7 linked regions of the Homo sapiens genome follow. The protein of the gene in region 6 interacts with the protein of the main gene of each other region in a pairwise test. Each region holds a gene or a part of one and is shown on either strand. Other genes may lie near its edges. The genes, in order: ZHX3, PLEKHB1, GPR75-ASB3, MAP3K2, NAA16, SH2D2A and SPTB.

Region 1 (4,038 bases), on a different chromosome or scaffold from region 6:
AGCTCACTTTGCCTGGGAGCTGCTCTGCCAGTTTGTTTGACTCATCATCCTCAGGGTCACAGGCACCCAGCCCTGGAATCTCGTTCCTGCCATTGGCTTCAGTGACCCTCAGGTTCTTCAGGTTGATTTTAATGGGGCTGACTTTGCGCTCTGCCAAGATATGGCTGCTGGGCATTTCCAGAGAGCCATTTTCACCAGAGACCCTTAGCTCACTGGCCAAATCCTCTTCTCCACCCTCATCCTCAGCAGCCTCCTCTTCCTCCTGAGAGGCATTCTCCTCAGCCTTCTTGGTCTCCTCAGCATTCACTTTTTTCCGTCTCTCTGAAAACCAGCTATCAATTTCTCGTCGGGTCATTTTGGTTTCACTTCTCAGGCGGTCCAGTTCCTCATCAAGAGGAAGAGGGTTTTGTGCAAAACTGCTCTCCAGGGCTCTGAGCTGCTCAGGGGCTCTCTCCTTGTATTTGGTTGGTGTGAAGTCAGGAGTCTGGTGCCAAGATTGTCGTTTGGCAGAAGGGTGGGTTGCTAGTGTGGCTGTTGTCGGAATGCAGGTTACCTCAGGGACCTTGGACGATGGGGAGAAGGACACCTCTGGCACAGAGTCAATGATGATGGAACTGTGATCTCCAGGTATCATCGCTCTGGAGCCCTTCAAGTTCCGGCAGTGGTATCTACGATCACTGAACCATTTCCGCACCTCTCTGGTACTGAGGCCCGTCACTTTTGTGAGATGTTCAACTTCGCTCTGCCCTGGGAACTGGTTCCGACAGAAGCTCCCTTTCAGAGCTGACAGCTGTTCATGAGATTTCTTATTTTTGTAGATGCTAGCATCAAGGAAGGCTTGGGAGGTTATGCTGGGGCAGGCCGTGAGGAGCGACTGGGCCGCATTGACCACCTTCACAGCTGACGTTGTATTTGAACACACAGTGTTAATGGGTGCCACACCTGGCTGCTTGGGGACGGATGTCACCGTGAGGGGGAGAGGGGAACTTGTTGCTTGCAACCCATTGGCCATCAATGGCTGAGTGACCAGAAGTCCCCCTCCTGTACCCTCTGGCTGCCCCACAACGTGACCTGGAAGAGCGGCCTGGATGAGATGCTGGACATTGCCAGCACTGGCGACGAGTGGGGTATTTAGAACCGTAATTGTGGGCTGAGGCACAGACTGGATGACTGTATTGAACATCTTTTTCCGGGCATCCTCAATCTCCTCAGGGGACCAGCTGATCCCCTGCTTCAGCCTTTGGGCTGTGAACCAGATCTTGAGCTGTTCTTCTGGATACTTGGTCACCACAGTCAAATAGCAGAGCTCGGCTTTGGTGGGGTAGGGGAACTTGTGGAAGGAGTTCTTCAGGAAGCTGTTAGAGTCCATGGCTGCATTGTACGTTGGAATGCTGCTCAGGGGGATCATCACTTTGGGAAGGGCCTTGGCCGTGGGCAGTGGCTGGTGGACATGGTGTTGGGCATGCACTGGGGGCTGCTGCTGGAGGGAGAGGAACTGTGCTATGCCAGCTGGCAAAACTGGCACTGTTCCTATCAGGGGCCCGTTGGCGGCATGGGGGTTTTTTGCAGAGCTGGCAGATGCCTGGCTGACTGGAACTGCCCCATTGATGAAGGAATGGTCCCCCTCTCTCACCTCCATTTCTCCAGTCGACAGCTTTGGTAAGGCCTCACCCACAGGCTGGCTAGGGACATTCTCCTTGAGTGTATGAATTTTTTTGGCTTCAGCTTTGCCTTTCATTATCTTCATGATTGGAGTTTTGGTAATGATGATTTCTGCCTGTCCATCAGCCCCTTCAGCACTGGGCTCACCCGCTAGGTCAGGAGTGCTGGTGCTCTCAGGGATGCTCTGCTCCACAACCACATGATTGTCTGGCTTGGCCACGTTCCACACAAAGCTGGCTTCCCCGGAGTGACATGTGGCATTGTGCAAGGAAAGCCCCTCAGGGGTTTTTGCCAGAAAACTGCACCCACTGCATACAAAGGTTGGGTCTTTATTAAAGTCTGTGTGCTCTGAGTTCATATGTCCCACAAATTGGGTCATGTCATGGGATCTGAAATCGCAGTATTTACAGGAATATAAATAGCCATCTAAAGTGCTCCGATGCCCATTGGCCAGTGTAGAGCCATCAGTACTGCTGGGGTTCTGTGCTGCCTCACTGCTGGCAGCAGATGCTTCTGGGGGCAGATCCTGCTGGGGTCCTTCAGGCAAGGTCTCAGCGGGCTGGGCCTCCATGCTGGCATCTTGCAACACCACAGTCTTCACTGGGATCATGCATGGTGTGGTGGATTTCCTCTTGCTGGCCATGGTGACAATCACTGGGTGATCAGCAGTTGAGAGCTTGTCCCATAAGGGGCCTAACAATACAAGTTCCAGCTTCTCGATGAGGGCCAAAGAAACAGTTTCTAAATGCAGCTTTTTCAGTTGTTTGCAGAAAGCAGGTTTTCCCTATTCAATCTAAGGAAAGGGAGAAAAAAATGATTAAGTTCTCTTAAGTGCTTTCTGTATATTTCTCGGATACCCAGACACATTCCACTGCTTGCCTTCTACCATCTAGGTCTTTTCACAGTAAGTTTAATCAGCAACTTGGATATGAAGTCTAAGTTAGGAACCCCCTAATGACAAAAACTGGACCCTGAAGAATGACCTGGGGATGGTCCAATACCAACTGATAGACTTAAGCAACGTATTTTTGTTTCTTCCCCACCACCCCCTACATATCCCTGCATTAAGTAATTCAGATTAAAAAACAAAACGCCCTCTTTTTGGACCTCCAAATTAATTCTGACCATGTCAGAGTGAGAACAAAAGATCCTAGTGTAATTCTTGTTTACATTTTGGACCAACACGCGGTTTTCTTTTCATAGCCTTCCCGCATATGAGAACAAGATGACGCCTCTGTCTGTCCCAAGCCAGGCCCAGGGACCAAGTTAGCTGCAGTGTGTGAACGGAAGGGGTGGGGTGGGCGGGGGTGGCTAGGAAGACCGGCTGCTGTAAGAGCCAGGCCTCTGTAGCCTTTCCTTGCCTGCCGCACTTATTCCAGGCCACAGAAAAGCGATCACCTTACAGTTACTGGCTGTTATGTATCCCGGACCACTGTTACTGAGATGAAACCAAAGGTCAGAGGGTCAGGGAATCCACAGAACCAGTTTGTGGCCCAGCAAGCTATACATTTTCTGTGTACGACCACTCAAAGGGTGGTCTCACCTTGAGATCTGAGAACAGTTGGACTGCCTCCCCAAGTGGGTCCCTGACCCCTGAGTAGCCTAACTGGGAGGCACCTCCCAGTAGGGGCCGACTGACACCTCATACAGCTGGGTGCCCCTCTGAGATGAAGCTTCCAGAGGGAGGATCAGACAGCAACATCTGCCGTTCTGCAGTATTTGCTGTTCTGCAGCCTCCATTGGTGATACCCAGGCAAACAGGGTCTGGAGTGGACCTCCAGAAAACTCCAACAGACCTGCATCTGAGGGTCCTGACTGTTAGAAGGAAAACTAACAAACAGAAAGGACATCCACACCAAAACCCCATCTGGACGCCACCATCATCAAAGACCAAAGGTAGATAAAACCACAAAGATGGGGAGAAACCAGAGCAGAAAAGCTGAAAATTCTAAAAATCAGAGTGCCTCTTCTCCTCCAAAGGAACGCAGCTCCTCACCTGCAATGGAATAAAGCTGGATGGAGAATGGCTTTGATGAGTTGAGAGAAGAGGGCTTCAGACGATCAGTAATAACAAACTTCTCTGAGCTAAAGGAGGATGCTCGAAGCCATCACAAAGAAGCTAAAAACCTTGAAAAAAGATTAGATGAATAGCTAACTAGAATGAACAGTGTAGAGAAGACCTTAAATGACCTGATAGAGCTGAAAACCATGGCATGAGAACTACATGACGCATGCACAAGCTTCAGTAGCCGATTTGATCAAGTGGAAGAAAGAGTATCAGTGATTGAAGATCAAATTAATGAAATGAAGCGAGAAGTTTAGAGAGAAAAGAGAAAAAAGAAACGAACAAAGCCTCCAAGAAATATGGGACTATGT
Region 2 (4,038 bases), on a different chromosome or scaffold from region 6:
TGGAATAATTAATTAGTTGTTCCATGTCTGGCTTCTCATTAGGCTGAGTCCAGGTGGGCAGAGCCCATATCTCCTTGGTTCACCTCTGATCCCTGGCACTTGGCACACCACCTGGCCCATAGTAGCAGCTCAGTAAATATTTGTTGTGCGGATGAATGAGCTTCAGTCTTATCATCTGCAGAGAGAGAACAATAACCCCAACTTCACAGGACTGTTGTGAGGAGCAGCTGGAATGATACCTGCACCACACCTGGCACATAATAGTTGCTCGATAAAAGACAGTTCCTTCTCCCCAGCTCATGTGCCACTCCCTCCAGCAAATCTCCATGGAGGCTTCTCTCTCTCCTCTGAGCACCAGTTGGCTCTCCCTTATCCTTTCCCCGAACACTTGGGACTCAGGCATCAGAGTTTGCAGAAACCTATCCACATAAGACTGAGAACTTCTGGCAGGTGGAGACCGAGTCTGAGTCACTCATGATTCCATGGCACATGGAGGTGGTGGGGAAAGGGGGAGAGAACGGGAGACTCACCGGGGTGGAGTTTGCCTCCAGCAGTGCTGTCTTCCATGCTCTGCAAAGCAAATCCCACCAGACCATGAGGAGGGAGTTTGGGGGTGGGTGAATTGGGCCCCCACATTTTAGACTTTCCTCTCCAACCCAGCCTCAAGCCCAAGTCTCTCATGAAAGGAGAGATCTCTTGTCTCCCTCAGGAAGACAAAAGTGACCCCTCCCCTGCCCCAGTCACATGGATGGAGCACTAAGTTAGGCTAATTCATTCTTCTCGTCCCCTCTAGAAGTTCCAGTTTCCTCATCTATACAGTGGACGGTTGGGCTTGGGTGGTCTCTCAGGGGATGTCAGATTCTGACACTCTTGGGTGGGTGTTGTAGCCCAGTCCCCCTCCACATCCCAAATCTACAAACAAAACACTTCCCCAAAGCTCTGACCCCAGAGCCTCAGGAAGGCCCAGCAGACACGGGACAATGGGGCCTTTGTTGGTTGCCATGGCACCTGGCTGGGTTGGACAAGGCGGCTCTGTGCTGTCTGCCTGGAGCTCAGCTTCCCCCACTCCCACACACCCATCTCTTTCACTCTCCTCCAGCGCAAAGGCCATGTACCCCTTAGCCAGAGGGTAGGAAGGGACGGAATGTGAGCCAGCAGATGGTGCCTGAGAAGGACACACCCAGGCTGGCCACGTGGATATGCATCTGACATTGGGGTGCCCCTGCCTGGGACGCAGCTGACTGCCTTTGTAGGCAGGTCCAGGGCTACCCCTCAGATCAGAGTCCCCCACCAGGGCATCTTCTAAGAAGGGAGCAAGGGTGCCACTAGGCTGCTCTGCTGCTTTGCATCACCCTCAGGTGAGGGCTCACCTCAGAGGCCGCTAAAGACCAGGAACCAGATACCTGAGGCAGGTGTGCACACCTCCCCCTCAGCAATCCTGAGTTCACTGTAGACCACATGAGGAGTTCACTGTGTGCCATGCCAGTCACCACAAGCCCTTCAAATCCACTCCACCCGCCTCCAATAAGACTCCCTTGCTGACTGGCCTTAGTGCCCTCTTCCTACGGTCAGAGAACCAGAAGGCCCAATGAGAAGGGGGCACATGGTAACTTTCCCCGAGATTCCACCCCATCCTCTCCTGGGAGTGACTCACAGGGCATCATCCTTGGTCTCCGCACAGAGGTGCAGGCGGCCGCCTTCCCGTAGGTTCACAGTCAGCAGGCCATCTCGGCTCCGGCCCTCTGGGGGCTGCACATCTGGAAGCAGACACACATATATGGGTTTCCACAGGCACAAGCCCCAGGTCCCCCCAGTAAAGCAGGGACAGGAATAGGAATTGACTTCTCTGGGCTCTGTTTACTGGCCACTGCCAACCTCCTCTGATCCCATATACTCTCTGAGGGATTCCACTCTACGTTTCCAACCTTTCCAACCTTTCCATGCTGAGGCTTCCCTCAGCACACCTCCCAGTTACCCTGTTAGAACTGTGGCCTGGGCCTTGGTGGAGGAATGTGGAGATTTGCTGTGACTCTGGGCCACTTCGCTTCTCTGGGCCTCCTAATTTCATTTCGTCTTCATCCAGTACCGAGCGCCTGGAGGGCAGGAACTGTGCCTGGCTCACCTCTGAGACAGCACAGAGGAGAAAGGCACTAAAGGACTGATTTTTCTTTTTCTTTTTTTTTTTTTTTTTGAGACAGGGTCTAGCTCTGTCCCCCAGGCTGTAGTGCAGTGCCATGAACACTCACTGCAACCTCTGCCTCCCAGGCTCAAGCAATCCTCCCACCTGAGCCTCTTAAGTAGCTGGGACTACAGGTACACACTACCATGCCCGGCTAATTTTTGTTTGTTTTTGTTTTGGTAGAGACGGGGTTTTGCCATGTTGCCCAGGCTGGTCTTGAACTCTAGACTCAAGTAATCTACATGCCTCTCAAAGTACTGGGATCATAGCTTACTGCAGCCTTGAATTCCTGGGCTCAAGCAATTCTCCTGCCTCGGCCTCCCCAGTAGCCATATGTGACCGCATCTCACCAATTTTTTTTTTTTTAAGAGACAGGGTCTCGCTATGTTGGCCGGGCTGATCTAGAACTCCTGACCTCAAGTGATCCGCCCGCTTCAGCCACCCAAAGTGCTGAAATTACAGGCATGCGCCACCACACACAGCCAAGGACCTATTTCTTAACTCACACCAAACTGAATTGGAGTTGACAGAGGCTCAGAAGCAATGTCTGTGAAATGCCTCTGAAAGCTGCAAAAAGACTTCCAACAGCAAGTGTTCTCGGAGACAGCGGGAGGCTCTGCCCACAGTCACGGTGCCACAGAGGAAGGGGCTTCTGCTCACCATGGCACTCTGGGCCGATCTTTATGTCACGGACATTGAAGTGGATGAGCACACGGTCCTCCTCGTCCTGCGCTGTCTCATCGTGGTAGTATCCCAGGGTCCCGTCCAGCCACAGGGCAAACCAGTTCCGCTTCCAGCGGCGGAGGATGGAGCCTGTACGATATTCCAGATGCACTAGGCAGGCTGATCCCAGAGCCTGCTGGGAATAGAAGCCCCAGACAGACTCCCAAGTCCCCTCAGCCTCAGTCCCTAGTGTTACAACCACCTTTTTCTTGTCTACCCCCTGAAATGAGGGCAGGACCTCTTTCTGTCTTGTTCACCTCCTGCCTCCCATTGGGTCTGATGCATAGCAGAAGCTCGATACACGTGCTGAACAGGGAAATGAGTGACTGGGCCCATTACTTGGAAGCTTCTAAGGCCAAGCCCCAGGTCTCTTCAAGGGCAAAGACCTCTCCCTACCTTAAGCCTGCATCTTCTCTCTCTCTGTCTTTGAGACAGGGTCTTGCTCTGTCACTCAGGCTGGAGTGCAGGGGCACAGGCATGGCTCACTGCAGCCTTAACCTCCTGGGCTCAAGTGATCCTCCCATCTCAGCCTCCCAAATAGCTGGAACATCAGGCACGCACCACTGCACCTGGCTAATTTTTAATTAGCCAGGTAGGTATTCTTGGAGACAGTGGGTCTCACCATGTTGTCTAGGCTGGTATCAAACTCCTGGGCTCAAGCAATCCTCCCAACTCAGCCTCCTAAAGTGTTGGGATTACAGGCATGAGCCACTGTGCCCGGCCTCTTATCTCTCATCTCTGACTTGTGTGATGGTTATTTGTGTAGCATCTGCCTCCTGTACCACTCTGGGGGCTATGGCTCCCCACGCAGGTCCTGGCACCCAGGGAGACCTGGCTCAGTGTTTGCTGAACTAAATGAACTGAGAATGGGCAGGGGTATGGGGCATGGGGCTGCTTGTCCCAGGGGTCCCCAGGATAGCTCTTGCTCAGGTCATGACTCTGGTCAGAGGTGGGTCTAGAAGCCCGAGACCGAGCTTCTGACATTTTGCAACTGGAAATCTTAACAGGGAAGGGCAAAGACATAAGAGAGCTTCTTAGGGCTTTGTGGATTCCAAAGCACAAAGGCATTTTTCACTTTGTTCTGTGCCTCGTTCTGTGTCCAGCCCGGGGTTGGGGGACTGTGGACACACAGAGGG
Region 3 (4,038 bases), on a different chromosome or scaffold from region 6:
TAATTTCAATGAACCAGGTCACTGTGACTTCCGTCTTGTTCTCTCTTAGACCTCTTCCTCTGAGGGAATCAGCTACCATGCCATGAGGATACTGCAGCCGTCCTGTGGGGAGGCTTTTATAGAGAGAAACCGAGGTTTCCTGCCAACACCCAGCCATATGAGTGATCCATGTCAGTGAGCCTCTGTGGAAGTTGATCCCCTGGCTCCTGTCAAGCTTGCTAATGACTGTAGCTTCATCTGATATTTAATGCAACTATAAGAGAAACCTCCAAGCCTGAACTGCCCACCAAGCTACTCCTGAATCTCTAACCAACAGAAACTCCAGAAGCTGCATGGCTGTGCCACGCCAGTCTGCACGCTCCAGCTGCCAGACAGCATGTCTTCCCCTTTGTTAATAATTTCTAATGGTTTACTTTCAAGTTAATTTACTCTTTCCTATATCTTTCATTTGGCTATGGAGTCCATGTAGTAAATTTTTCATTGCAGATTATTGTATTTTTCCGTCTTTTTTATAGTTTCTACTACTCAGCTGAGAATTTCTACCTTTTCATTTTTTCCAGTGTGTTAGCCTCATGAAGCACCATTATAAGAGCTGCTTTCAATTATCTGATATTTCTAATATCTGGACCATCTCAGGACTGGCATCTATTAATTGCTTTTTCCCATGAGATTTAGTAATGTTTTATCAGTTCTTCATATGTCAAATAATTTTAGGTTGTCTCCTGGACATTGTGAATGTTATGCTGTATAAATTCTGAGTCCTGGGTCTTGTTATAATCCTTTGAAGAACACTAGCTTTTTGGTTTGTTTATTTCAGCAAGCATATAACCTAGTTAGGTTCAAACTGCAATTTCTGTTTTACCTTATACAGTGGTTCCAACGTCAGCTCAGTTCTCAAAAGCCTTGACTTTCCTGCTTTAAGCTTGGACCCATGAATGTGCCACTCAGGGTCTAGCCTGAGACTCTGATGATAGTTCAAATCTTACTTTCAACATTTTGGGTTGGCTGGGTGCTGTGGCTCACGCCTGTAATCCCAGCACTTTGAGAGGCCAAGGCAGGGAGATCACCTGAGCTCGGAGTTCAAGACCAGCCTAGGCAACACGGCAAACCCTGTCTCTACAAAAAATACAAAAAAAAAAAATTCCAGGCATGGTGGCGCACAACCGTAGTCCCAGCTACTCAAGAGGCTGAGGCAGGATAATTGCCTGAGCCCAGGGAAGTCGAGGCTGCAGTGAGTCATGATCATATCACTGCACTCTGTGTGGGCAACAGAATGAGATCCTGTCTCAAAAACAAAACAAAATAAAAAACAATTTGGGTCTATCTTGTGCATTTAAAGCTTGGGGTAAGTCAGGAATATGCAAATTCATATGCACAATTAGGGTATCCGCTTCTCCAAGCTCTCTCTTCTCCAAGATTCCCTACCATTCTCTGGCCCACAGGGTTCCATTTACCTGATTCCTCTGACCAGAAAAACAGGCTTTCTATTGTGTCTATGTTTCAGCTTCCTCAGTAAGTTTAACAGGATCTATTTAGTGCTCTCTATATTAAACAACTGGTCAATTAATGTTACTGACTGATATTAGCTGCTGGTGCCACTGGTGCTACTCAGCTCCAGATCAGGGTTGGCCCTCAGGGCAACACAGCAGAAGAAAAAGAAGGCCAGGCGCGGTGACTCATGCCAGCACTTTGGGAGTCCGAGGCAGGCAGATCACTTGAGGTCAGAAGTTTGAGACCACCCTGGCCAACATGGTGAAATCCCATCTCTTTTAAAATACAAAAAGTAGCTGAGCATGGTGGCACATGCCTACAATCCCAGCTACTTGGGTGGCTGAGACAAGAGAATCACTTGAACTCGGGAGATGGAGGTTGCAGTAAGCCCAGATCGCGCCACTGTACTCCAGTCTGGGCAACACAGCGAGACAGTCTCAAAAAAAAAAAGGAAAAAGAAATGGGAAAATTCGTTTTCATGTGGGTCACTTCACCAAGTTACCACTCTCTTTCATAATCTATCTGCTTTTGTTCCTTTGAGAGTCCTCAGGTAGTTTCTTTTTGAATTTTGACCACAGTTTTTTGTAGTCATTAGAGAGAAAGAGAGAGGCTGTAGTGGAATTACTCCACTGCATGTTAAGAACTTCTTAGCATCACTGAAGTTTACACAGAAAAAAATTCTACAGAGTAACTGAGACATAAAAAGCAAACCAAACTGTGGAGTTCCTTAAAAATACAACTTTGGAGTACTTGTGAAAGGAAAAGAAAAAAAATCATTTATATCACTATTCAAGAATGAGATAATAGCTCCTATTTGCAGTTATCCCAGACACAGCAGAAAAAAATAGGAACCTTCCCTTCCATGAGTCTCTATAAAAAAATACAAAAAAAAAAAAATACATTAAAAACGCTTCTTTGCCAAAGACAGCAGAAGATAGTGAAGTAAATGCCACTAAATACTGTTTTTCCCATTAGGTTTTAAATTCCTAAAGGATCGTGTGTATGTTTCAGCTTCCTCAGTAAGTTTAACAGGATCTATTTAGTGCTCTCTACATAACAAAATGGTCAATTAGTGTTACTGACTGATTTTGTAGAAATCAAAGGAGAAAAAAGGGTCTGCCCCCTAAAATTTCAACTAATCTTGGAAAATCCAGAAACCTATTTAAGATCTTTCCCACCTAATTTCATTTATCCGAATCTACAGAAGGCATGAAACATACTGCCCAGCTCCCAAGGAATATCATTAATTTTAAGGTGTTTCAGAGTTAACAGGGGTACTACATTATATGGCTTAATTCAAACTACACTTATAAGGTGATGAGGCGTGAGCTTAGCTGCTGTGACCAGAAGGACCAAAAACATTGTTCATCCAAAAGATAAGATGAAGGCCAAAAAAGACCATCATCATATTGAACACACACACACACACACACACAGGCGCGCGCGCGCGCGCAATCCAAAATCATTATATTCTGGTCTAATAAGAAATGTTCAGTTCTGTAACGGACTTAAGATTTGGGATAGAGAAAGGCAACTAAAAGTTATCAGTGCAACCTCACTGAAGGTCAACTAAAGTAATTAGGGCTCTTCTGTTTAAAAAGACAAAACTTAACGGGGTACACAAGAAAATCCTATGAAATCATGAAAGTTATACATAAAGTGGGCCCCAGATACTCAGATTAACCAAAACCCAAATATTCAAACTAAAATGTATAAGTTTAAGAGGCCGGATGGGGTGGCTCACACCTATAATCCCATCACTTTTGGAGGCTGGAGGCAGACAGATCACTTGAGGCCAGGAGTTCGAGACCAGGCTGGTGAAACCCTATCTCTACTAAAACGTGTAAGCTTAAACTTGAAACAAATTATAGTGAACTACTAATTTTACATGGCAAATGTTAAGAGATAGTAAAGGCTGAAAAGCTTAGTAAATAATTTCTTGATAACTACTCAAATTAAATAGAGATTCATAATAGTGAATTCAAGAAGGCCAATACAATTTGAGGTATGCCTGCAACCTCTTCTGTGTCATTAAACACAATAGCATCTATCTTCATAACTTATTCCATTATTGGATGACCAGATATTACTCAATATGGCTGTTCTTACACACAGCTTTATTCTTAGTGTTTTAAAACTGTAAGAGTGTTATAGACAAAGTTACTGGCCAGACACTAACAAGGCAGCAGTAATTCTTCACTTAGTCTATTTCACAGAATTATGACAGATTAGAAAAATAATTAATTTGGGGGCGTTTAAAAACTTAATTATTTAGACTCACATCCAAAAATAATATAAAGCCAGGCATCGTGGCTCATGCCTGACATCCCAGCATTTTGGGAGGCCGAGGCAAGGGAACTGCTTGAGCCCAGGAGTTCAAGACCAGCCTGGGCAACATGGAGAAACCCCATCTCTACTAAAAATAAAAACATTAGCTGGGAGTGGTGGTGTACACCTGTAGACCCAGCTACTCTGGAGGCTGAGGTGGGAGGATCACCTGAGCCTGGGATGCAGAAGTTGCAATGAGTCAAGATGGTGCCACTGCAC
Region 4 (4,791 bases), on a different chromosome or scaffold from region 6:
GGCAAAAAAATATTCATTGAATGATGGTTTCATCAATAAAAAAATCCCAATATCACTAATTTGTAATCATATATACTAAAATAACCAAAGATGTCAGAGATTTAATATCTAAGCAAGAGGAAAAGTCACCAATATAAAAGGAGAATGGCGAAAAAGAAAGAATAGCTACTATAACTATACCCACGGGATGTTTCTGAGGAACCCAGAGGTGAATGAAGTCCCCGGGGTGGTAAGTGAGGGAAGGGAGTGGAGAAATGAGCAGCACTATGAGGGGAAAAAATTTATCTCTAGATTACTTAGTAAACAAACACGTTTTTATTGAATGCCTGCTATGTGGTGACCCAGTAACTGTGGAGAACAATATAGATATTTAAGATTTAAATACTATCCTCCGGCGTTCTGAGACCCTCCTTTCTGTGGCATACAGGTCTTAGAATGTTAGATTCAAGAAGGTCTTAGATTTATGCATAAGTCCCCCATTTTTTAAACAAATAGAAGCAAACTGATTTTCCACTGACCTCTGTGTTTCTGAGGTGCACATCCTTGTTCCTGTGACTTTGACACCTCTGTTAATGGGTCTGTAATAAAAATTCCTGGAAGAAACCCAGAGATATTTTGACATTACACAACAGTTTCTCCCTCAGTCTCTGCCCCACAAGTGCCAGCTCCCTTGACCCTCAGAGCCCAAGTTGGGTAGCTCCTTACCTCTGGTTCGGGTGAGTCCCATTCCCATCTCTCTCATTTCAACTGCTCCAGTGGAAATGTGGTCTGGAATATGCATGAAAGGGGTGGATCCAGAATGTACGAAGAAACCAAGAAGAAGCTGAACAGGGAAGAATGGTACAGGAAGTTGTAAGGGGTATTTAAGGAAAGGAGAAGAGATGGGGCGGAAAGGTGCTTTCTGGATCAAAGTAGGGTGAAAACGTCGGGATGCAGGTTAGTCACACCACGGAGGGCCTCACCACTAGTCTGATTAATTTGCATTTTATCCTGTGGGAGATGAGGAGCGAAAGAAAGGGTTTTAGACTCTAGCTTTGGGGGTGGGGTGTCAACTCATGTCTCTGGGCTTAAGTTTCCACATCTGTTAAGCTGGAGAAGTAATACTTGCTGGGCTAACCAATGTACACAACCAGTCATAACCAAGTATCGATGGTGATAAGAACTAAACAGAAAACACAAATAACACTTAGCCAGTCTCCAAGGGGGTGGTTTAAGGTTAGGTGGCAAGCCTGAAGTAATTTCTAAAGTCCCTCAGGAAAAAAATTCTGAAACTTGAGCCACAAATTAAGAGGCAGACGGCTTTTCTCCTTGCAAATGACCTGCCACACAGTCCGTCACTGCCTCTGCTAGCTCTGCTACCCTTGGGCCCTGTCCACAGCCCACGTGGGAGACCTTTTCACGGGATCTACTCGGATGTCTGGGATCTGGCCACTACCGCAGGCTCGAGACAACCCAGGTGCGTATGCGCCGCGCACACGGAACAGCACAGGCTGCCCCGGGGCAGGGGCGGGGGCGGGGCCGAGGCCGGGGCGGAGCCAGGACTGGGAATCCCCGCGCCGTCCGGCCGGTGGGGGCGGTGGCCTGTGTGTGGGCGTGGCGGGCCTCTGCGCAGGCGCCGACCCACTCCCCTGGGCCGGGCGCGCGCCCGCGGCGGGTTCCGCTACCGCCGGGCGGAGGGGTGCGCGCGCACGAGCGAGCGGCCGTGACGTGCGCCGCGCTACGCCCGACGTCACGGGTCCGTGTGTAGTGGCTGCCGGGCTGCCTGCCCTCAGCGGCGGCGCCTGACGAGGGTGCCGCGGCCGCTGGGCGCAGCGTTCGGGGGTTGCACGGCCCGCGGCGGCGACGAAAACAACGACCAGGACGCTCGGCGCCCCTGTCCGCAGAGTCGCCACTCCCGCCTCTTCTCCGGTCTCTAGCGACGCGGGCCCGCGGCTTCCTCCTTTCCTGCCCAGTTCCCGCGGGCCTCGGGGTTGCAGCGGCTAGAAGTGCCGAGGAGCGCCAGGAGGACCCGGCCGGCTGCGAGGATTCACGCGCCCGCCACCCCGCCCGGCCCGGGCTTCATGTGAAAGAGGGACGGGCCTGGCCCCAAGGCCCGCGCCCGACTCCTCGCGCGCCCCTCCGGTCCCCGGGGGCCCTGCGGCAGCCCCCGACCTGGGGCCGCGGTGACAGGCCGCGCTGGGGCGGAGGGGCGGGCTCGGCGGGGGCGGCCCCTCCTTGGGCCTGCGGCTCTCTACGTCCCTGCGGAGCAGCCGGTACGTGCGTGTGTGCGTGCGCGCGCGCTTGTGTGTGTGTGTGTGTGTGTGTGCGCGCGTGTGTGTCGGGGGCCGCGGGCTGGGCGCCGGGAGGGGGGCTGGCGGCGGCCTAAGCGCCGCTCCAGGGGCGGAGATTTCGCTGGGTGATTGCCTAGCTGCGGGAGGGCGGACCTTGGGCCCCCTGCATCCAGTCCTAAAGCCCAGGTCAGCGCGAAGTAGGCTGCTGGGCTGTGTTAGCTGTCAGACACGTACCCTGCAGAGATTTTAGAAGAAAGGTTGCATCTGGTCTTGGGATGAAGCAGAAATGGTACATGCAGTAAGCGAAAAAGTGCTTGTCTTTGCACTGTCACAGTGTGGTAATCTTTTGATGTAAGGTTGTTTCCCCCTTTTCTCTTTACGGAATATTTAGGTAGCACTTAGGGTGCTCTTAGTCTGCGCCCGGCAGTTGTCATGCATTATCTCTCTTCATCTTCCCAGCTCAATGAGGTGGGTAAATTGCCCCATTTTGCAGGTGAAAACTTGAGGCTCAGAGAGATTAAGGCATTTGTCCAAGGTCATGAAGGTAGTAATCCAGGAAGGCTTGGTTCGAATATGCAGATGTCTTTTTGTAAGACTGTATTTCTCGTCTTGCAAAAAATAAATACGTTTAGAAAATGAGACTAACTGGGCAGTTTCTTTAATGGGATAAATTCTAAACACATAGACAGATACAGTTTAGTTTTCCCTAACGTAAGCTCTTCGATATCTTTTGCCAAATCATTTTCTTGGCTTTAAAAAAAATTTAAAAGATGGCTTCAGATACCTTTACTTTTTATGTACTAGTACTGGACAGAAAAAAATTATTCTCTCACAAAAAATAAATACATTTGGTAAAACTGCATAGATCTTGAAAAGTCACAAATTTACTTTTGTAGTTTGACCTTGATGCCCAAAGGGAACTCACAGTTGGGTTATTTGCTTGAGATTTCCTTGTTGCAAAATTTGTTGCTGGATTATGTGGCAATTTAGTGATTTGTTCGTTGTCTTATGCAATCTTTTTTAGTTCGATGTCAAATTTTAATGCGTAGAATATCGTAGGAAGTTTGATGGTGTGATTCTTTTTCATTTGTATGGAGTGCTACTAGTCAGTGTTTATAAGTTAACTGAAAATTCTCATTTTAGCATGAGTTTTGTATTTTTTAAAACTATGGTGAGAGGAAAAAATAAGGAGCCAGAGCTCTGTACTGAAAAAAAGTCGATACATTTCCTTTGAGTAATTGAAGCTCTATGCATAATTGCAAATGTTTAACAAATCTATTGATGCCCAGTTATATTACTCTGTAATTTTCCTAGTATATTATCAAGTTGAAGAAAATTTGTGGTCTTGCAGTCTCTGTGGAGAAAAGGTGAAATTACAAAGTTAACATGTGGATGGTTTACAGATTGATTTGTTGTTTGGTTAAAATATAAACATGTTGAATCTTATTGAATTATGTTGTATATGATATCATTATAGAATGGTTATCCATGTGCCTCTTTTGAGAAACTAGCTGTTAAAGGCTTATCTTAAATAATTGGATTGCATTAGAGACTGAGTCTTATAAGCAATGTTTTAGGGGGAGCTTTTGTTTCTAGTTTACTTTATTGGTACCAAAGGGTTAAACTAACAGGTGCTGTATTAAAATAAAGTCATGTTTGATACTCTGCATTTCCTACAGCGTTGGTTTCAGGTTGATTTTCTCTTTCCCTATAGAATTGGAGCTATTTCCCCCCACCTCCCACTTTTTATTATCAAACAATTTCAAGCATACAGAAAATTTGGTAATAGTAAACCACTTGTATCTTGACCCTCTAGATTAAACATTTGTTGTTATCTTGCCATATTTGCTTTATCTATAGGTACATGTACAGGCATACCTTAGAGAGATTGTGGCTTTGGTTCCAGACCACTGCAATAAAGGAAAAGAAGTGAGTCACATAAACTTTTTAGTTTCACGGTGCATATAGTTATGTTTACAATATACTGTAGTCTATTGTGTGCAATGGCATTATGTCTAAAAAAAGTATATACCTTAATTAAAAAATTATTTATTGCTAAAAATTTCTAAAGAAATTTGAGCCTTTAGGGAATTGTAATCTTTTTGCTGGTGGAGGGTCTTGCCTCCATGTTGATGGCTGCTGACTAGTAAGGATGGTTGATAAGGGGTGGTTGTTGAAGTTTGGGATGGCTGAGGCAATTTCTTAAAGTAAGACATTAGTGAAGTTTGCCGCATCGATGGACTCTTCCTTTCAGGAAAGATTTCACTCTGGCATGTGATACTGTTTGATAACATTTTACTCACCATAGAACATTTTTCAAAATTGGAGTCAGTCCTTTCAAACCCTTCATCAACTAATTGCTTATCACCTATCATCTAAGTTGCTTATCGTTGCTTTATCAACTAAGTTTTTGTAATCTAAGTCCTTTGTTGCTACTTCAATAATATTCACATCATCTTCACTAGGAGTAGATTCCATCTCAAGAAGCCACTTTCTGTCCAGGCGTAATGGGGTCACGCTT
Region 5 (4,038 bases), on a different chromosome or scaffold from region 6:
CACTAAAAATTTAAGGGAAAGTATAATCTAAATGAAACTCAGTAATGGAAGATCCACTTATCATATTCTAAAAATTCTCAAAATTTTAAAAAACAAAGCAATATAGTCATCAATGTTAGAAGAAATGGAATTTAAGTTCAAGAAGTTCAGAACTATAATGATCCTTAGGATATTCAAATTTCATTTAAACAGAAAATTTGGTAAGTTTCTAGTTATGGTCTTGCTGAAATTACTAATTCGTAAGTGCCTAGCAGCCTCTTCATAAGGGAAACAATTTACCTCTCACTGAGAATGTCCTAGTTAATAAAAATGTATCTTTCCTTAATAACAAGCAGAATGCTCTTAAAATAATGGTCCTCTAGGGAGTGTAACAAGCTAGTGATCTGTGGTTTTATGAAGGAAACAAGAGCCTGATTTAAACTAGAATGCTTGGGTATTTCACCTATCATCCCAAGGGCTTTATATTTTTCAAGGAGAAGATGAGGAGGATTTTCCCCAGAGATACAGCCATCAAGCCCAGGCTTAAAAGGGCATGAAAAACAAACAAACAAAAAACAAAAACAGAGCAAAAATTAGGTTATTTCTAAAAATGCTTGGGTATAATTCTAGTTCCAGTCCCCATCAAAAGCCACCCCCTAAAATTTAGCCTTCCTTGTGGGTAATCTCAGAAATTTCACGTGGGAAAAAGGCCAAAGTGACTGCCACGGTGCAGACATCAGGCTCACCTGACTACGATGCCTGTGGTTCTATACTGCGTCAGGATGGGAACAGTGGTGCCGATTGCCCCCACAACTGAGGGCTGCTGAGGACTGCCTCAGGGGTGCATTTGCGGCTCTTTTCCTCCTGTGGTCCATGTGGAAGGAGAGTGCTTCAGAGATGACAAAGAACAGGAAAACAAAAATTCACACAAAGGAAAAGAAAAGTCCCCTCACTAAGGCACATCACACAAATAATCCTAAAAGCAAGCAATAAAATAAGCCTGCAAACTGGCCATAGATTGTTATACAGAATACTGAATGTGAGAGCAAATATCCTGGGAAGACAAACTGGAGAGAGGCTGACTGCGGACCAGATCCTGATGTTTTAAAGGGGAAAGAGGTTGCCATCAGCTGTGTGTCCTCTTAGGGTGGTGATGAATATCAAAATAATGGCCTAATTAGGGAACATAAATTTTGAATTTATGTTAATAGCAATAATTGTTTACTAACAATCTTTTTCCTTCAGACAAAAATATATAGACATGTCAAAAGCATAATCACTTGAGGATCAGTAAAGCAATCCATTGTTTACAACTTCTGAATGTAAAGGTTAAAGATCAAGAATTTTTTTCACAATGAAGCTCCCAGAGAAGTTAGAAGAGGCAGATGATCCTGTGTAGAAATCTACCTGCTTTTTATCACCTTACAGTGAAAACTGAAGTCGAAATTCTAACAACTTACCCTTTCTACTTCATGACATTTTTTCAAGGCATCCCCGTATCTCCCCAGACGCTGATAAGCTGAAATGCATTCTGTCTGAAACCACATACACTGCATTTCATTTAGATTTTCCATGGCAGATGTTCCTTCCTGAAATGGAAGCATTCAAAACTATAGAGAGCAAACAATGAAAGAGATCCTAAAAATCATTTCCTCTTTACAACTAGGGCTACAGTACTATTATGACAATAGCAGCAATTAGCAAATATATCAGTATGTTTCCAAACATGGTTTTATACTACAATAGTCTCTCCTTATCCAAGGTTTCACCTTCCATGGTTTCAGTTACCCACAGTCGACCATGGTCTAAAGATATTAAAGGGAAAATTGCAGAAATAAACAATTCATACGTTTTCAACTGCATGCCATTCTGAATACTGTGATAAAATCTTGCACCATCCCACTCTATCCCACCCGGAACGTGAATCATCCCTTTGTCTAGTACATCCACACTGTCTGCTACCTAACTGTCACTTAGGAGCCATCTCAGTTATCAGATGGAAAACCCACATATACATAACGTCTTATTTACCCAGCTCTGCTGGGGTAGTCAACACTCTTCATAAAAAAGACTCCAAATTACTAAATCTTAGTTTTTAAACACCAAAGTTTTTATTTCAACTATTTAAGAAAGCAGTCATATGAAGTACTGCCTATCTTCTGCCTTTCAAGCAAAAGCTATTTCAGCCTTCCTTGCTGACTCGGGGTCACTGTTACGTATATTCAGCATTTATCAAATCTGTTAGTAATAGCTGCAGGCCTGTTTTTTGGTTTCCCAGTGTCCCTCCTCCATTGTCACTTTCTTTGTGCCCATGTGTCTGCTTCTATCAGCATCACCTGTTTCATGACAACTCTTCTACTTTAATATTTCTCCTTTGCAGTGGGCTGACAAAACCAAATAACTGAATTTGTTAATTCAGGCTCAATAAAAATTCTGAGGGGAGTGTGAGACATAAATTAACGAATTTTAAGTGCAAGGATACTCAAGTTTTGTCACAGTTTAGAAGAGACATTTAAAATATATTTTATATGACCCCAGGAAAGGATGCAAAGATACACTTATATAAATGATTTCAGTCTACAGTTTTTCCTCACATTTTGTGTATCAGTTCAATTTTCAGAACACATTAAACGTCTAAAAACTAGTTATCTCTGGGTGAACAGAATTATTGATGTATTTTCTGTCTTCATTATGGTTGTGTTATATTTTCCATTTTGTTAATGGTCACATATTTTTATAAGAGGAAATCTATATTACTTTTCATTTCAAAAAGTTTATCAACTAGAACTATCCAACATGTATCAGCAACTTTGTACAAAAGTTCTAAACTGAAAAATCTGCGAGAAGGAAATATGCGCCCTTCACTCATTTATTAGTAAGCAGATATATCCTGATTATTCAGGGTCATTTGCAGTTTTCTTCCCCTGCCTCATTATGTTGTTCACCACATATTATGGATTTGCCTGGCCAACAAACTAGTGTGCATAAAGTGAACAAGCTTGCCATACAGCATGGCAACTTGTCAAAAGTGGATGATCAGAGGCAGTTATGATGAGCAAGCTGAGCCACAGATTTTGGTGACTATTCTCCTTAAATAACCAACTCCTCTCACCTTCTTTCTCATTCTCCTGTGCCTTTAAAGACGCATCCCAGTGTCACTGGGCTTTCTGTTTCTTAAAAATCACTGAACTTCTTTAAGTTTTGCATAGATTTAGTATCGCTTATCAGAATTGTCTGGAACCAGAAATGTTGCAAACCTTCTCAATTTTGGAATATTTGCATTATACTTAGTGGTTGAGCGATCCCAAACCCAAAAATCCAAAATCCAAAATGCTCCAATGAGCATTTCCTTTGACCATCATACCAGTGCTCAAAAAGTTTCAAGTTTTGGAGCATTTTGGAATTTGAATTTTAGATTTGGGATGCTCAACCTGTATACTTCATATTTAATTGCATTTTACTTCCTATCGCTACCTTGGCCTTCCATGTGGTACTTTTCTCTGAAAACATAATTGGTTTTATGTTTATTCCTTGTACTCTCTTCTTAATTTCAAACCTGTGATATAGTGGAAAGGGCATTGAAGACTTTGAACCTAGTGCTATTTACTATGTGGTAGCTGGGACTATAGGCACATGCCACCATGCCCACCTCAGTTTTTCTTTTATGCTTTATGCTTTTGGTGTCAAGAAATGCTTCCTACCTCAAGCATAAAGAATGCTTCTTTATCCTGAAGATAAACTCCTATATATTTTCTTCTATAAGTGTAAGGTTTGCTTTCCATATTTGATCTTTAATCCACTTGGAACTGATTCGTGTACAGTGAAATTTTCTATTATATTAGATTATATTATAATTAGTTTATCCTAAGCTCCTTTATATTTTCTTGTATAAGTGTGAAAGGTTTGCTTTCCATATCTGATCTTTAATCCACCTGGAACTGATTCGTGTACAGTGACAGAGAGGGATATTGGAGGCTTTTTCCCCAACAGGAGTAACTAATTGTCCCAGCAATATATTTTCATCTCTGATTTTTACAGTATCTCTGGGTATATCCCATT
Region 6 (3,500 bases):
TAAGGACAAATGTAATGCTGCTCATCCTCCCGCTCTTACCCGTGGCAGACATCACTAATCAATCATGTGCTTTTTTTCTGCTGAGTTCAGATATGACCTTAACATCCTTTCCAATGCAGCACTCTAGGCAGCCACGACCAATGGATTGGAGTTGGCATGCAAGATGACACCTCTTTGCCATCCTTGCAATAGATGATGGCTGAGCTCCTTTCCAGCTTTGAACACCTATGGTTTATTCCATCCACATTTCTTGAGAAGTGTGCCAGGTGTGTGTGAAGGTCTCTGGACCTGATGCTCCAAGTTATCCTCACCAAGCTCAGACTTACCGCCTACTGAGGAGGCCCAAGGGGAAGCCATGCCTGTCCTCTGTCCTGAAGCACCTGTCTAGAAAGATTGTGGGGGAGGGTGTGTCTCCAGGCGGGTGGGGGCTGGTGGGGCAGGGGAGGGCCTTGCCCAATCACAGAGTTCTCAGAATGCAGCTGGGAGCCACCTGTATTCTGCAGAGAGAAGGACAGTTCTAGGTCACACCCTCTACCCTCTGCCTCCTAGGTGTACTTGCAGTCTCAAGACATCTGATCTGAACAGACTTTGGCTTCCAGAGAGGGTATCTAAACTCCTCTCATTCATTAATTCAACAAACATCTCCTGAGCACCTGCTCTGTGCCAGGCACTGGGCTGGGTGCTTTGGAAACAGATGGGTAAGTCCCAGCCCCTCCCTTCAGGGAACTCACACTCTAAACTAGGGAAGGGACAGAGAGAAGGAGATGGGAGGAGATGGATGTCTCAGGTGATCAGTGGCATGGCAGGTGTGTGTAAGGCACAGGGGGTGGCCTCTGAGAAGGGAAAGCTGGTCTTGAAGGATGATTAGAAAGTTGCCAGGCAGCGGGAGGATGAGGTTGCAGGAAGTTGCTATAGGCAGAGATACTGGCGGGTGCAAACCCCAGGAGGCTTGAAACCACTTGGTGAGTTTAGAGAAATGTGAATCATTCTAGGAGAATGGGAGTGGCTGGTGGTAAGGCTAAGGAGGTGAGACCCCCCACCCAACCCAAGTCTAGAGTGCTTCATGGGCCAGGCAGCTGCTTCAGCAAGACCATTCTGGCTCTTTGGTGCAGAGTGGATCAGAAGTGGCAAGAATGGTGGTTAGGAAACCAGTTAAGAAGCTCTTGGGAGCCAGGTGAGGTGGCTCGAGCCTGTAATCTCAGCTGAGGTGGGAGGATCACTTGCACCCAGGAGTTCAAGTTTGCAGTGAGCTATGATTGTGCCACTGCACTCCAGCCTGGGTGACAAAGCCAGACCCCAATGATGGGGGCTGGAGCTGGGGGAAGGAAAAATATACTTAGGAAGAGATCCAGCAGGAATGAGTGGCTTACTGGGGGAGTAAAGAGGGAGCTGTGCTGAGGGAGCCCTGGGATTCTGGCTTGGCTAGCTGGGTAGCTGGAGAGTTAGCAATCAGGACAGTGAACATGGGACCGAGCTGTTTGGAGGGCAAGGGTGAGAGCGCTGTTGGCCGTGTTGAGTTTGAGGGGCTCAGGGATGCTGGGGGGAACTGACCAGAAGCTTGGAAAAAAGTTTGGACGGAGATATGGACAGGTGACGTTAGCTCTAGGACAGCAGACGTTGGCAGGGGTGTGGGTGAGCGCGAGCAGGCTCAGGCTGAGCAGGGAGCCTGGGGCACCAGCAAGGAGGGAGGATGGGGAAGGGTCTGAGGAGGGAGGCTGGGGAAGGGCTTTGGGAGGGCCGCAGAGGCCGAGGGAGAGGGTGGGATGGCTGCTGGGGCTAACCCATGGCATGAGGTACTGACTTGAAGGGTAGGCAAGAAGACTTAGGGCTGGGGAGAAGGAAGAGGGAGACAGGGAGTACACAGAAGCAGGCTGGGAGAGCAGGGTCCCCCTCCCCTGAGCTCACTGAGATGACATAAGGGAACCCAAGTGCTCTTTTTCTCCAGGACAGCAGGGCCGTGAAGGCCAAGGGAGAGAGCCAGAGAGGCACGGGGTGGGGTCAGCCCCAGGTGCGTCTGAAGAGGGCCTGCAGGACAAGATGGACGCAGATCAAAAAAGCCTCGATGTGGGAGGTGGAGGGGCACCCTGCCTGGGGGCCTCTGTTTTCTGTGTGAGATAGGAGGGCATGGGGGCTTGACAAAGATGAGGTCTGAGCGACTCTGGGGAGAAGAGGGGGCAGCCTCTGGGCCTGGAGAAGGGAGGCTGGTGCCTGGATCATTCTGTTCTTCCCACATCACCTCACACCTCTGCCCCTTACCCTGCCCCAGGCATCCACTCTGAACACCTTCTTCACCTTCCCCCATCTACCTGCAGGGAGACCTTCTTGCACCTACCTTTCCCTGCATACCCATTTACCTGGCCTCCTGGGACAGGCCTGGACCAGCTCTTCCGTAGGACAGGGTGCCCAAGGGTGGCGGGTAGGCCCTCATCTTCCACTTCCACATAGATGTTGCTGGGGGCTTCCCCAGGGCTGCCCCGGCCCATGGCATAGAAAGCTATGGGTTCATCAGGCTCATTGTAGATAGGATTGGAGGGCTTGGGGCGTGGGGCCGGGCGGTGTCGTGGAACAGGGATTGTGTAGACTTCTGGGGGCAGCTGAGGTTTGGCGGGGATGGGAGGCTTGGGCCTGAGCAGCTGGGAGGGCTGGGAGAGAAGGTGAGGCCAGGGAGGAGTGGGGTGAGGGAGGCAGGGTTAAAGCCCCAGCCTAACTCCCAGCCTGAGCCTCTGCCCCCGCTAGGCCCCTCCTCCTCCCCGCTGCCTGCACCCCCTCGCAGGCCTGTCCTCCCACTCCCTCAGCCCCTGCAGCCCAATACCTCCTTCTCCCCGGCCCCCTCTTTCTGCATCGGGACTGGGGCTTGCCCCTGTTTGATGATTGGGCTGTACTGGGGGTTTGGGTCCTGGCTTTTGCTTCCAAAGTTTGATTCTTCGGTCCTCAGGGAAAGTCCTGCAGGCTCAGGAGTCTGCTGGGAAAGAAGGAGGTCTGAGGCACTCGGTGGAGCGTTGGGGTGGGGGAGGTGATCAGGAGGACAAAATAATCCAGTCTAAGTGGAGGATGGGGGAAGGGGGAGGAGCACAGAAATTTGGCCTGGGCTGGGTTCCCTGGATGAGGAAGAGGGGGTGGTGACGGCAGGGAGACCCAGGGTTGGATGGAGGCAGTGGTAAGCTCTGGTCACAGGCCATATCTAGCATTAAAGTTTTTCTTTTTTAAGATAGAGTCTCACTCTGTTGCCCAGGCTGAAGTGTGGTGGTGCAGTCTCAGCTCACTGCAGCCTTGACCTCCTGGGCTCAAGCTATCCTCTTGCCTCAGCCTCCCAAGTAGCTGGGACTACAGGCATGTGCCACCACACCGGCTAATTGTGTTTTCATTTCTTGTAGAGATGAGGTCTCACTATGTTGCCCAGGCTTGGTCTTGAACTCTTGGGTTCAAGTGATCCTCCCACCTCAGCCTTCTTGCGTCTTAGGATTACAGGCGTAAGCCACCACACTTGGCTGCATTAAACT
Region 7 (4,038 bases), on a different chromosome or scaffold from region 6:
ACCTGACTTTGACCCAGTTGCCTAGTTCTGAGGCTGGGGCTGTTTCCAGGTCTTCTCAGTGGAGTAATTGAATATTCTGGGCCTTCTGGTTGAGACCGCGGTTGCTTTTTTTCTTCAGCAGAATATTCCACATAAGTTCATTGGTTCTGGAGAGAAGACACTTGTTAATGGTATTACCCTTTACCATAGCCACAGAACCTCAAGAATGGCCCTCCAGAGTATGCACAGATGCTGTTCCAAAGCATGAATTAATGGATTCTCAGTAGCATGCCATAGATAAATGAAGGGTTCATCTGCCCGTTAATTGATGTTTTGGGTTTTTCATTCCTTTACCCCAAATTTACTGGGCATTATTGTGCTTATGCTTCATTTTGGACTTCAGCAGCCTCTTTTTGTCCAGTGATCTTGAGGGCCTTGATTTGTATGTCAGTCTTCAACAAATATTTACTGAGTTCTCATTTAATTTGCCAGACATGCTGTAGGCCCAGGGAATGTAACAGTGAATGTGGCAAAAATGTCTGAAGTCGTAGAGTGCACATTGTAGTTGGGGGAGAGAGGAACTAAATGACAAGCAACAGACAAAAATATATATTGTAATTTCAAGTGCTAAAAAGAAAAATAAAGCAATATGAAGGGAAAGAAGGGTGGTTCTACTATTTCAGGTAGGGTGGTTGGGAAAACACTATCTGATGGGGCTTCATTTGGGCTGAGACTCAAATGAAGTGGGGAGAGAGGCATGGGATGTTTGGGAGAAGAGATTCAGGTTGAGTGGTAGTCTGTTCTCACACTCCTAATAAAGACATACCAGAGACTGAGTAATTTATAAAGGAAAGAGGTTTAATTGAATCACAGTTCAGCATGGCTGGGGATGACTCACAATCATGGCAGAAGGCAAAGGAGGAGCAAAGGCATGTCATACATGGTGGCAGGCGCATGTTCAGGGGAACTGCCCTTTATAAAACCATCAAATCTCATGAGACTTCTTCACTATCACGAGAACAGCACAGGAAAACCCACCCCCGTGATTCAGTTACCTCCCACCGGGTCCCTCCCACGACATGCAGGGATTATGGGAGCCGCAATTCAAGATGAGATTTGGGTGGGGACACAGACAAACCATACCAAATGGGAAGCCCCCAACGTGGGGCCACTGCTGTGTCCAAGCAATAGCAAAGAGGCCAGTGTGGCCTGAGTGCAGGGTGTCATGGGGAGAGCTAACCACAGTGCTGGAGAGAAAAGCGGGTCTTGATGGTGCAGGCTTTGTGACCTTTGAGTTTTAGTCCAAGTGTCATAGGAAGCCACTGGAAGTTGTGGGCAGGGGAGTGACTTGTTGGGATTTGTGTCTCAAGCAGATCTTTCTGGCGGCCCTAAGGAGGATTGATTGTGGGGCACAAGAGTGGAGGCAAGGAGTCCCATGAAAGCTACTGCGGTGGTTCAGGACGAGAGGATGGATCAGGATGATAGTCCTGGTGAGATGCAGTTGGGTTCTGAGTATAGAGATTATGAGATTTGGATATAGAGGATGAGAGAAAAAGAATAAGATGATTCCATTGTTTTTGGCCTGAACAACTGGATGAACAAAAAGGTCGTTTACTGAGATGGTGATGTATTTTATCAAATGTACCATGGGCTATTTTTTTTTAATTTCTGTTTTTGTCGAGGTGTTGACTTGGAATAGTCTTGGCAGACTTTTCATTTAAATACACCAAAAAGGAGATGTTTTTATTTTGGGATGATTCATGACATCTGTTTGAAGCGAAGCTTTAGATGTGCTGTGTACTTTGTACTGTTACTTTTAGATCAGTCCCACAACGTTTATACTATGTGATGGAGATTAAGATATGGGAGAAACAAGATTGAAATATATTTCACTTTATTTTTAGAAATGTTTTGAATTGGCTGGTTAAAGCCCAAATATTTTTTGATGCTTCCTGGTTGTCATATTTAAAAAACTTTTTAAATTATAAAATAAACTCATGTACGTGGTTAAAACATATATCCATATTATACAAGGGTATACAATGAAGAGTAAAAGTCTTCTCCTAACTTCAGCCCTATTTCTAAGAAGGTACCACTGTCAACAGTTTCTGTGTATGCTTTGAGAAGAATTCCATTCATGTGCAAGCATTTGGCCTGATACATTTTAAAGTCATAGCTTTAAGCTAGCAGCACCACGTGTTAGGTTTCAGATTTAGTAGACTTTGTAGTCACCTTGGTAGCCCTCAAGTTAAGCGACCTGGAGTCCACTTTCTATCAACTAAGGATCTCCCTCTCCAAACCATCCCACACTGAACCACTGTGTTCATCATATAACACCCCTTCTCAAAAGCCACCAGTGGTTCTTCTCTGGGTAGAGGTAGAAATCCAAACTCATAAAGTTGGCTTTTAAGGAGCCATTCTATTCTGGCACCAGTCTCTTTTTTTCTACTCTTTTACCACTTTCCATCACAAACCCTCTACTTAAACTAAGTTTGTCCACTTCTGCTTACTGAGTCCTGACCATTTCTCCCAGATTTGGAGTGTTTTCCATCAGAACTTGGGTTCGAGGCTGTGTCTTCGTCCTGGAACACTCCACTCCACAGTAATCTCTCCCTTCTTCAAACTTGCTAAATTAGGGCTAGATACATGCACCCTATTTGAACATAATCACAAATTCTTTTATTAACTTTCTTTGTATATGTGTATTATTTGCTCAAATATATGTGACATAAATTTTACCATTTTAACCATTTTTAAGTGTACATACAGTTCAGTGGCATAAGCACATTCACATTGCTGTGCAGCCATCACCATCATCCCTCCCCATCATCATGAAAAAGATGGACGTTTTTCATCTTCCAAAACACAAGCACTGTGTCCACTAAACACTAACTCTCCATTCCCTCTCCCTCCATCTGTCTATGGACACTTGGGTTGCTTCTACTCTTGCCTATTGTGAATAATGCTGCTGTGAACATGGGTGGGCAGATATCTCCTTGAGACCTTGCTTTCACTTCTTTTGGACATATACCTAGATGTGAAATTGCTGGATCACATAGTAATTCTATTTATAATCTTTTAAGGAACCCGTCCATGCAATTTTAATATTTCCCCTTGGTATTTAACATCTCCAAAGGGAAGGGCAAAAATTTATTATCCTCATTTTGGGGGCCAAACTGAACTTGAGAAGTGTTTGTTTCAGAACACTGTCTTTGGGTGATAGTTCGTCATCAAAGTTCTTGAATTTGTTCATTTATTAGTGTGCCTGTTTTTAGATTGTAGACTTTTAGAGGACAGGCAGGTGATGTTTAATTTGCTTTGTAGAGCATGTAGCCCAAGCTCAGGTGGGGAAGGGTGTAAATATTATGCGATGTTTTATTTCAGCTAAAAAATCTCCTTGAGCTGGATGACAAGAGTCTGGGTTGCTTCCAGCTCCTTTCCTCTTGCTGTTTGCCCTTGGGTGAAGAACTTCCTCTTTCTCTGACTTTTTTTTTTTCAGGGCTTTTTGTGTGTGTGATTGTGATGGTGCCTTAACATTTATTATTATCCTTAAAATTTTCCTTGTGGATTCCTCTGTAAAACTTACATGTTGCCTTCTCTTTGTAACCTTGCCTGACAGCCCCTCTTCCTTACCAGGTCCTGGGGTAGCGCTGATTGCTTCCTCCTTTGTATTTTTACAGTACCCTTTTCACTCCTTTCTTACAGGTGGATCATCTTGTTTTGTAATTGTCAACTTGCCTTCTACACTGTTAGTTCAAGCTTCTTGCAATGGGGAACTGAGTCTCATGCTTAAAAACAAAACAAAACAAAACCTCTGCACCTAGAGCCATGTTTTATACATGGAGGGGAGTGGCTCAGAAATATTTGTTGATTAAAAAATTAGGCTGGAAACATCAGCTCATGCCTATAATCCCAGCACTTTAGGAGGCTGAGGTGGGCAGATCGCTTGAGCCCAGGAGTTTGAGACCAGCCTGGACAACATAGCAAGACCTGTCTCTACAAAAATTAAAAAGAAAAAAAAAAAAGCAGGGCATCGTGGCACGTGCCTGTAGTTCCAGC

Evidence for each region.
Region 1: the proteins of SH2D2A (region 6) and ZHX3 interact in a two-hybrid assay, tested with the Homo sapiens proteins (one large-scale study listed by BioGRID and IntAct).
Region 2: the proteins of SH2D2A (region 6) and PLEKHB1 interact in binary tests that used the Homo sapiens proteins (3 or more experiments, as listed by UniProt).
Region 3: the proteins of SH2D2A (region 6) and GPR75-ASB3 interact in binary tests that used the Homo sapiens proteins (3 or more experiments, as listed by UniProt).
Region 4: the proteins of SH2D2A (region 6) and MAP3K2 interact in a two-hybrid assay, tested with the Homo sapiens proteins (one study listed by BioGRID).
Region 5: the proteins of SH2D2A (region 6) and NAA16 interact in a two-hybrid assay, tested with the Homo sapiens proteins (one large-scale study listed by BioGRID and IntAct).
Region 7: the proteins of SH2D2A (region 6) and SPTB interact in a two-hybrid assay, tested with the Homo sapiens proteins (one large-scale study listed by BioGRID and IntAct).

Annotation. Positions count from the first base shown.
Region 1 is NC_000020.11:41,202,612-41,206,649, forward strand, and holds part of ZHX3 (zinc fingers and homeoboxes protein 3), read right to left. Parts: intron 2,456-4,038; 5' UTR 2,306-2,455; coding exon 1-2,305. UniProt on the Homo sapiens protein: Acts as a transcriptional repressor. Involved in the early stages of mesenchymal stem cell (MSC) osteogenic differentiation. Is a regulator of podocyte gene expression during primary glomerula disease. Binds to promoter DNA.
Region 2 is NC_000011.10:73,649,507-73,653,544, reverse strand, and holds part of PLEKHB1 (pleckstrin homology domain-containing family B member 1), read right to left. Parts: intron 2,993-4,038; coding exon 2,840-2,992; intron 1,758-2,839; coding exon 1,655-1,757; intron 571-1,654; coding exon 531-570; intron 1-530.
Region 3 is NC_000002.12:53,709,842-53,713,879, forward strand, and holds part of GPR75-ASB3 (GPR75-ASB3 protein), read right to left. Parts: intron 1-4,038. UniProt on the Homo sapiens protein: Probable substrate-recognition component of a SCF-like ECS (Elongin-Cullin-SOCS-box protein) E3 ubiquitin-protein ligase complex which mediates the ubiquitination and subsequent proteasomal degradation of target proteins. Recognizes TNFRSF1B.
Region 4 is NC_000002.12:127,384,913-127,389,703, reverse strand, and holds the start of MAP3K2 (mitogen-activated protein kinase kinase kinase 2), read left to right. Parts: upstream 1-1,728; 5' UTR 1,729-2,252; exon of another isoform or gene 2,253-2,266; intron 2,267-2,464; exon of another isoform or gene 2,465-4,199; intron 4,200-4,791. UniProt on the Homo sapiens protein: Component of a protein kinase signal transduction cascade. Regulates the JNK and ERK5 pathways by phosphorylating and activating MAP2K5 and MAP2K7. Plays a role in caveolae kiss-and-run dynamics.
Region 5 is NC_000013.11:41,359,561-41,363,598, reverse strand, and holds part of NAA16 (N-alpha-acetyltransferase 16, NatA auxiliary subunit), read right to left. Parts: intron 1,569-4,038; coding exon 1,440-1,568; intron 869-1,439; coding exon of another isoform or gene 815-868; exon of another isoform or gene 724-814; intron 1-723. UniProt on the Homo sapiens protein: Auxillary subunit of the N-terminal acetyltransferase A (NatA) complex which displays alpha (N-terminal) acetyltransferase activity.
Region 6 is NC_000001.11:156,806,849-156,810,348, forward strand, and holds part of SH2D2A (SH2 domain-containing protein 2A), read right to left. Parts: intron 2,960-3,500; coding exon 2,813-2,959; intron 2,643-2,812; coding exon 2,355-2,642; coding exon of another isoform or gene 2,289-2,354; exon of another isoform or gene 498-2,288; coding exon 330-497; 3' UTR 327-329; exon of another isoform or gene 1-326. UniProt on the Homo sapiens protein: Could be a T-cell-specific adapter protein involved in the control of T-cell activation. May play a role in the CD4-p56-LCK-dependent signal transduction pathway. Could also play an important role in normal and pathological angiogenesis.
Region 7 is NC_000014.9:64,869,753-64,873,790, reverse strand, and holds part of SPTB (spectrin beta chain, erythrocytic), read left to right. Parts: intron 1-1,112; exon of another isoform or gene 1,113-1,469; intron 1,470-4,038.